Linked DNA regions of Homo sapiens. The protein of the gene in region 3 interacts with the protein of the main gene of each other region in a pairwise test. Each region holds a gene or a part of one and is shown on either strand. Other genes may lie near its edges. The genes, in order: SOX5, ZNF76 and MORN3.

Region 1 (3,740 bases), about 98 Mb from region 3:
GTTTAAGATGAGAAAAATAATAATTTCCTTTGAATTTTCCCCCTAATATTTAAAGTTATCCAAAGAGTCCCATGGACAGTCACATTTCAATCAGTAAGATTCACAGATGATAAAACACAATTCAAGAGTTAACAACGATAGCTTTGGAAGCTGCATTCACTCCTCCAGCCTTATGTGACCCCTTAGAATGGCTTCAGCAGATTAAATTGCTTCCAAGATACTTGAGTTTAGGCAAAGAGAAAATAAGGAGAACCAGTAGAACTCTGACAGTAGGTTTTCACTGGGTATTATCACAAAATAAGTAGATGTATTTTGATAGTATCCAAAACTTTAAAAATACTTTGGGGACTTGTAGAGACTGTATTATCAACAAAAGCACTGCTTTTCTTTTCTTGCTTTGTATTCATTCCTCATCTTTTCTTTATTTTTAAATTTGGAGACACAGGAATCAAACAAAATTGCCCAAACTTGAAGACCTCTATAGCAGCACATTCAAAACATAGCATACCTGTTGGTGAAGTTTCTCAATATTTTTCATTAATAACATGCTCTTTGATTTAATGAAAAGTAGAAAATATTTCACATACAAGCATGATTGAATTTAGGTAATGACAGCAACAAAAACTTTGATGTGTTAATGCTGATTACTGTGGGTATATTTTATCATGCTAATACAACTTAAAATTTATGAAATGTGTTATTACCCGTAATTGTCTTTTATTGACAAAATAAGTGCAAATATATGGCAACATCTTCCTAAAATGGGTTTGTAACTAGCAAGTGATCATTTGCACATCTGCCTTTTCTTGTTCTTACACCTTACAGCAACATAAGCAATAAAATGAACATTATGTGTCTTCATCAAATCTAAACAAGCTCTTTAAATGTACATAGGCTAGGTTTATCTTAGCTAAGTGGAGCTGAAAATAGAAGAAAATGTTTGCAACATTAGACCCAGAAAAATGCAAATTGAATCCAATTGAGTAAAATTCAGTTTTGATAGAATTACGTGTTTCAACGTTCAGGTTTGTTTAGTCCCTTGATTAGTATAGACCTGGTCTTAAAAGTAGAATTGGCCCAAGGCACAGAGTAAACAGTTGTGTATATTGGAGGATTCAAGGGGACCCCCTCTCAAAGTATGCATCTCACTGGTTTGCCTTTGTGCACTCTTCTCTATATGCAGGGAACTTCCCTGTAGTAGTAACAAAGTTGAGGGCGGTACTGCCAAAGGAATGCTTAAAATGCATGGATGCCACCTGACAGTAGAGAGATGTTCCCGGTCAGGGTATTGTATAAGAAGAACAGCACTTCCTTCTTTTTCCCTCTTTGCTACGCTATTAAAAATCAGAGTATCAATTTAATTTCTTCTCACTGTGGATGTTTAGAATGTTCAGAGATGATACAGAAAACAGAAGTCTGAAGGCCTATGAGAAGGGAGCATAAAGCTGTGCAGCTGGTTTCTAGTTAGGTTATAGAGAGTGGGCCCGACACTTGACTATGTAGTACATAGCACTAGGGAGAAGGGTTCCAAAATGTAAGAAACTATCGTGGAAATGTCCTCTGAGCCATGTATTCTGGTGAGGGCTTGACAAATAGAAACTTAAAAAATGAGCCAATAGAAACAAATTTCTGAAAAAGTTCATTTTGGGTACAAGAAATAGGGAAGTGAGGCCGCATGCAGTAACTCACGCCTATAAAACTAGCACTTTGGGAGGCTGAGGTGGGAGGATCACTTGAGCCCAGGAGTTTGAGACCAGCCTGGACACCATAGTAAGTAAGTCCTCATCTCAAAAAAAAAAAACAAAATTGCTGGGCATGTTGGCATGCACCTATAATCCCAGCTACTTGGGAGGCTAAAGTGGGAGGATCACTTGAGCCTGGGAAGCTAAGCATTTTGAGCATTTGCTTTAGAATCATGCCATCTCGAATTTAATTCTTGCCTCTGACACTTAGAGCCCTGTGACCTGGGGAAAATGCTTCAAAACTCCTGAGGCTCAGGCTCTTTCTCTGCAATGGGACTTATCCTAGGTTGACTAGGAATTAAATGAGACGATTTCTGCAAAGCACTCAGCAGAGTGCTTGGCACATGGGGACTGCTCAGTATATGTGACCTCTTATTGTAATGATGAGGTATGAGGTGGCTGTCTAGTCTATTTTTTAGCAGTTTTAATTGGCACTACCTAGACACTTTCTTGCATTATTAGAATATGTATGAACAATTTTCACAAACCATCAGAATCTCCACTCAGATTGAAATCCATCATTGCATGGCTAAATTTTCCTTCTTCATTCTGTTTAACTGCCAGTTGCTGAGTCAGACTCTCCAGTGTTGTTTTTTCCTTTAAAAAAATTATAATGAGAGATCAGTCTAGGAATTAAAATTATTTGAAGACTTTCTTTTTTTGGGCCACATATATAATACATTAACTCCTGGAAAGGATGCAATGTTGATATATTCACCTTTTTACGTTCAGCACATTAACCTGAAGTCATTAAGGGGATGATCAGCACGATTTTTGAAGGAACTCTGATTCTCATAGACCCCTATAAAGTCTTGGCGTTTGGGTTTGGTATGCCTAAGGGATATATGCCGGGATCCTTGGAGACAACCTTCCCAAATTACAAAATGTGCACAGAAATTTCATGGAAGCAACCTGTTTTACATTTGGAATGTCTGCTTTATTTTTGGCCAGACAGTAGAAGTATAGGAGTGGCGTGAAGCCCAGAGAAAGTCTTCCAATAGTCAGGTGACCAAATAATAGAAACATAATTCACAGTAGTGCCCTCTGGTTGCCATCTTCCCAAATGCCATCTGCATTCCTCATGCAAGGGTAATGAAGACGTTTAAATATTCATTGCTAATTGCTTGTCAAGTCTCTGTACATCCAATGTGAGTGCCTGCTACTTGGACCACAATTTGATTTGGATTGCTAAGCCAAAATATTGAGTTGGCGAATTATTTGAGATACAAATATACCAAAATTAGATCTACAGAGACATCAAGTTGTTTAAGCATGCAGTGCACGATTCACATTCATGGAGAACATAGCATTTCAAAATAAATTATTTTTAAGAAAAATATAATGCTTAATCTAAACCATATGAGACATTACTGTCAAATTAAGAAACTGGGTGACTTTAGGAACAGAAAAAGCATATAATGAAACTTGATAACTTTCTCGTGAACTCTCCAGCACTGCTCTGAGGATGATGTAGTACCAAACAGCACCAAAACAGTTTTAAGAAATGCATCCATTGGATCTCATAACATTATCTCAAGTTTCTTTATAATTATTCACCTCATTTTCTGAGGAACATAGTCATGAATCATACTAGTGAACGACATACACTGCAGAACTGCTATTGACACAATAAAATGTTCACAGAAAGTAATCAATGATGTAAGATAATTGTATTACAGGTAAAGGGCCCAACTAATGTTCCCACCAAGAACTAATGAGATATTGAAATTCTTAACACAGTACATGCTTTATCTCAATGAAGTCTCTGACAATGTGACAACTGTACATACTAAATTAAAAAATCTCTTAAGTCAGTGGCCTTGGAACTCCTGTACTCTATTCATCAAATTATGTACATTATTTAATAGAAAACTATTTTTAAATTGTCAATCAGTATAAAATACAGTAGAGAAACTGGAGACAAAATAGTTTATATTAACTTTAGTTCTATAGAATTAAATAGTATTAAAGTTGAAATAAGTTACGCATTTAAAACTG
Region 2 (3,115 bases), on a different chromosome or scaffold from region 3:
AACAAAATGGGTCCAAGGTTGCAAAGAGAGGCCACACTAGAAGAATTCCACTGACTACTTCTATTTATCACCACTTTGCCTCTGGGCCCTGTTGTATCCAGCTCAGGGTCGCCACCTGATTGTGTCCTAACAACTCTAGAAAGCACAGATGTACTTTCTAGCAAGGGTACGGACAAGGGTCAGGTTATATAGCTAGCTAGTACACTAGTAGGACCAGACCCCAGGCTTTCAGACCCCATACCATGTTCTGGCTGCTATATGAACATGCCTCTCTTGAGAAGGACATCCCATATCCTGTTCAGATGAACAGGACCTGTCAGCCTCCAAGTAAAGAGAGAAACTACTAACTGTGCTCTAGAAGCCCCAGAGACTGAGCTGGAAGCACAGGAGGAGGAGAGGCTGTGCTGCAAGATGTGGTCTCCTCAGCCTCAGCCTCTGAAGTCTATAAAACTTAAACAAGAAGCTGGGTGGCAGTGGGGCTGTCAGAACTTCAGGGCTCCCAGAGTCCCCAGAGAGAGTGGAGAGTGCCAGCTAGTATGGCACCTCTGCCCTCCAGGGCCTGTACCTGCTGGGCACCATCCTGAGTGATCAGAGCCACCTGGGGGGCCCCATCTTCTTCAGTCACCATCGCCACCTGGGCTGGGATGTCATCTCTCTCTTCCTTCACCTCCGAAAGGTAAGCTATCCGGGGTCGTTTGGGTGGCGGACTCTCCTCGGCTGCAGAGGCGGCTGGGAGAGGAGAGCCAAGGCTGACATCTGCTACCAGATGCCATGGGGAGGCCTGGCTTGTCCCCACTCTCACCCTCTGCCCACTCCCCTTACCCTCAAGTTGCTGCTGCTCATAGAGGGCCTGCTCGCTCTCCTCCGTGGCCTCCAGCTCGCCGTGGGCACTGCGCTTGTGCATGGCCAAGGTGGAGGTCTGCCGGTAGGTCTTGCCGCAGGTGCTGCAGGTGTAGGGCTTGCAGTGTGTGTGCACCACGTGGTGCTTATACAAGCTCGAGTACTCGGTGAAGCGTTTCCCGCAGCCTGGCACCGTGCAAACGTATGGCTTCTCCCCTGGGGACACTGGGCTGTGAGGGGGGTGGGAACTGGGGCTGGCAAGGGGGAAACTAAGGGGACAGGGGTGAGGGACAGGGTTGGTGAAGGGAGAGCCAGAGGGAGGGAGAGGGACTGAGACCTGAGACTCTGAATGGACAGGGTTGGGGAAGATGGCCAGTGGAACACAGAGAGGACACAGGTGTTGAACCACTGAATCCAGAGACAAGGCGGAAAGGAAACGGGGGACAGGGCAAGGCTGGGGCTAGTGAAGGGGCTGGTAGGGGGCACTGGGGCTTATAAGGTTGAGGGTGGGAGGTTGAGAATGGTGAACAGCAGAGGCAAGAGGCAAGGATGACTGAAGTATCAGTTGTGATGGGAAAGAGGGGACACACATGCTGAGACACAACACAGAAAGCTGGATGAGGGGCATAACACTGGGGAGGGTGAGGATACACAGGAGTCATGGACGGCGGATAAGGTGAGGAGTTGAAGGTGACAGTTCACTCTGCTTCTTCCCCATCATTCCTGACCCTGGCCTCTTTTCAAGAGTTCAGTCAGAGTTGGAGAACTCAGGGTGGGTGTAGAGGGGTGGTAGGGAGCTGAGGGACCCCAGAGAGGACTGGCAATACCTTTCAGATTGGACCTAACTGGAAATTGAGGAATTACTCACTGCAAGCAGAGTTGTTCTGGGGATACCCTACCCCCAGACCAGCCTGGAATGGCTGGCACAGAAGGGTTCTGGGCTGGGAGTTGGGAATGTGTCTTAGATGGGAAGCCTACAGTAGAGGGGTTGGGGCCTGAGTGAGGGTAGTCCTCGCATGCCAGCTAGCCCACCTGTGTGGATGCGCACGTGATTCTTATAGTTGGTGGCGCTGGTGAAGCCGCGGCCACAGTGGGGCTCCGGGCAGGTGTAGGGCCTCTCGCCTGTGTGGGTGCGCACATGTACCTTGCGGATGTTAGATGTGGTGAAGGAGCGGCCACAGCCCTCAAAAGGGCACTGGAACGGGCGTTCACCTATGCAAATGGTGGGATGTGAGGAGGGGTGTGGGAAAGAGGGCCATGCTGGAGCAAGCTGGGGATGGCACTGGGCTCCAGGTCTAAGTCTGAAAGGCAAGCTGAATTCCTTTTGCCCAGGGAATGGGGTTGGAGTGGGCAGGGCCCAGCATACCAGTGTGGGTACGGACATGCTTCTGCAGGTCTCCTGAGGTCTTGAAGGCCTTGCTGCACAGCTCCTCTGGGCACTTGTATGGTTTCTCACCAGTGTGGGTACGAACGTGGCTCTTCAGTCCATAGCCTGTCCATATGTGGCAGGCAGGGGGTGAGATGAGCACCCAGTGGGGTCTCATCCTCCACCGTCCACCTCATGCACAGGCTCTCCACCTCCTTTGGCTCAAGAAGCCCATGTCTGCCTCTATCCCACCCCTGCCCTGGGCAGGGGCTGGAAAAGCCCACTCTGCCCTGCTTCCCTCTCCAGGAGCAGTTGGAGCCATACCAGAACATGAGCATGAAAAGAAACTTAGAGAACTCATGGCTAAAGGTACTAGTTTCACAGAGGGGAAAATAAGCCCAGAGAGATGCAATGGCCCACCCAATAATCCACAGCTGGTTGGCATCAGAGCTGACACAAGAGGCTGGGTCTCTCCACCAACCCTCCAGGCTCCTTCTGCTGGCCTGAACCATGCTGCCTTGCACTCCCGTAACAAGGTTTCCTCCAGAGAGAGCACCCTGCAAGTCAGAGTACTCTGACGGTAGTTTCTCCAGGAAAGCAGCCTGGTGTTGGGTTCCCTTCAGAGAGGTCCCAAACAGAACGAGAACCCTCCACCCTCAACTGGAAGCAGCCCACCAGGCAGGTTACCTGTGGCAAAGGCCTTTCCACAGCTGGGGAAGTCACATCTGTATGGACGGTCACCTGTATGAGCTCGTTCATGCACCTGTGAGGACAAGCAATCACATAATTCAGAGGAGCAAGGGTATGACCAGGGCTCTTTGGTTTTCTTTAGGACCCTGATTCTCTTCCCTCCTGTACCATTCATGTGTGTCAAGCGCTCTGTGCTGGCATTCCTGTGTACCCTCATTT
Region 3 (2,207 bases):
GGGTTCAAGGGATTCTCCTGCCTCGGCCTCCCGAGTAGCTGGGACTACAGGCATGAGCCACCACGCCCGGCTAATTTTTGTATTTTTAGCAGAGATGGGCTTTCACCACACTGGCCAGGCTGGTTTCCAACTCCTGACCTCAGGTGATCCACCTGCCTCAGCCTCCCAAAGTGCTGGGATTACAGGCGTGAGCTACCGCACCCGGCCGTCCTGGACATCTTTTACGTATTCCCCTAGGACAGCCACCTCCCTACTTCTGTAGGGATGCAAGATCCAGCTGGAATTATTTCTGGGCTAGGATCCTGTTGTCTTGGGTTCTTGTTCCTAAACTGGCCGGGACTCGACTCATCAGCCAGGCTTGTCAAATGCAGGTTTCGAAGCCCTTGGAGGATTCTGATTTAAGTAGGTCTGGGTGTGTCTTTGGAATCTATTTCTAACAAGCACCCCAGGTGCTCTCACACCCAGGCAACTTAGACAAACACTCCTAGTTAGGAGCACAGTCTCTTTAACTTCATTTTTATTTACATTTTGAATACATAATACATTCACATGGTTCCAAACACAACACTGAAAAGTTGTTCTTCAGCTCCTGTTCCCAAGTCCCCAATTCTCCCCAGAGACAACCATCTTTGCCAGTTTATTGTGTTTAAATCTAGCGACATTTTGTACATAAACAAGCACACCCTCTTCCAACATTTTTTTTTTTTTTGAGATGGAGTCTCGCTCTGTTGCCCAGGCTGGAGAGCAGCGGCACGATCTCGGCTCGGCGTGATCTTGGCTCACCACTACCTCCGCCTCCTGGGTTCAAGTGATTCTCCTGCCTCAGCCTCCTGAGTAGCTGGGATTATAGATGCACTCCACCACACCCAGCTAATTTTTGTATTTTTAGTAGAGACAGGGTTTCACCATGTTGGTCAGGCTGGTCTCGAACTCCTGACCTCTTGATCCGCCTGCCTCGGCCTCTCAAAGTGCTAGGATTACAGGCATGAGCCACCATGCCCTGCCCCCACTTTTTCTTTAAAAATGGTAACCCTTTACACTCTTCTGCACATTAAGAACAGCTAGACCTAAGTTTAAGCACAGTACTAGCTTGATGACTTGTGATCCTCCCTGAACCTGTTTCCTCCTCTAAAATGGCAGTAATAGCAAGACACCTCACTGTTGTCGGGGAGTGCCAGGAGAGAATGCTTGCTGCGAAGCTGTCAGCACACGGCCTGGAATAGAGTGAGTGCTCCATATCTGGAAGTTATGATTAATTCTGCATCCTAGGGTGGCCAGGCGGGGCTTCCCAGTGCCAGAGGTACAGACTGAGAACCACACCCTTGGTGAGGCCACCCTACTTATGACTTAGGGGGCAGAGAGAACCTCAGTAAGGTCAGTGGTGTTTATTGAGGCTTTACTATGTGCTATGTGCCTCTTGCTGAGGTCTTAGCTAGAATCGTGGTATTTCAGGGTTTCTCAACATTTTTTTTTTTTTTTTTTTTGGAGATGGTGTCTCGCTCTGTCGCCCAGGCTGGAGTGCAATGGCGCAATCTCGGCTCACTGCAACCTCTGCCACCCAGGTTCAAGCAATTCTCCTGCCTCAGCCTCCCAAGTAGTTGGGATTACAGGTGCTGAATTCTTTTTTTTTTTTTTTTTTGTAGCATGGTGATATTGCACTATGCTTAACCGCATCCCTGGTCTCTACTCACTCAATGCCAGTAGCCTTCTTCCTGCCTGTTGTGACATCAAAAATGTCATACATTGCCAAATGTCCCCAAGAAAGAGTGGGGCTGAGGGAGGACAAAATCCTACCCACAGTTTAAAACCACCGCCTTATCTCATCCTCACAGTAACTAACCACAGTAACCCCAGGTGGTAAGTACTGTTAATGCCCCATATTGCAAGTGAGGAGACCAACAGAACAGAGTTTGGGTGACATTCCTGAGAACACACAGCTCCGAGATTCACGCCCAGGCACTGTGACTCCAGAGCTCACCTGCCCATTATGCAAGAACATCTGATCTTGGCTGGGAGCAGTGGCTCACACCTGTAATCCCAGCACTTTGGGAGTCCAAGGCGGGCAGATCACGAGGTCAGGAGATCGAGACCGTCCTGGCCAACATGGTGAAACCCTGTCTCTACTAAAAATACAAAAAATTAGCCTTGGTGGCAGGTGCCTGTAATCCCAGCTACTTGGGAGGCTGAGGCAGGATAATCGCTTGAAC

The links.
Region 1: the proteins of MORN3 (region 3) and SOX5 interact in binary tests that used the Homo sapiens proteins (3 or more experiments, as listed by UniProt).
Region 2: the proteins of MORN3 (region 3) and ZNF76 interact in binary tests that used the Homo sapiens proteins (3 or more experiments, as listed by UniProt).

The regions. Positions count from the first base shown.
Region 1 is NC_000012.12:23,544,086-23,547,825, forward strand, and holds part of SOX5 (transcription factor SOX-5), read right to left. Parts: intron 2,340-3,740; coding exon 2,231-2,339; intron 1-2,230.
Region 2 is NC_000006.12:35,290,495-35,293,609, reverse strand, and holds part of ZNF76 (zinc finger protein 76), read right to left. Parts: intron 2,970-3,115; coding exon 2,894-2,969; intron 2,333-2,893; coding exon 2,207-2,332; intron 2,053-2,206; coding exon 1,873-2,052; intron 1,071-1,872; coding exon of another isoform or gene 1,057-1,070; coding exon 823-1,056; intron 730-822; coding exon 566-729; intron 1-565. UniProt on the Homo sapiens protein: May be involved in transcriptional regulation.
Region 3 is NC_000012.12:121,648,242-121,650,448, forward strand, and holds the end of MORN3 (MORN repeat-containing protein 3), read right to left. Parts: 3' UTR 501-2,207; downstream 1-500. UniProt on the Homo sapiens protein: Assembles a suppression complex (suppresome) by tethering SIRT1 and MDM2 to regulate composite modifications of p53/TP53.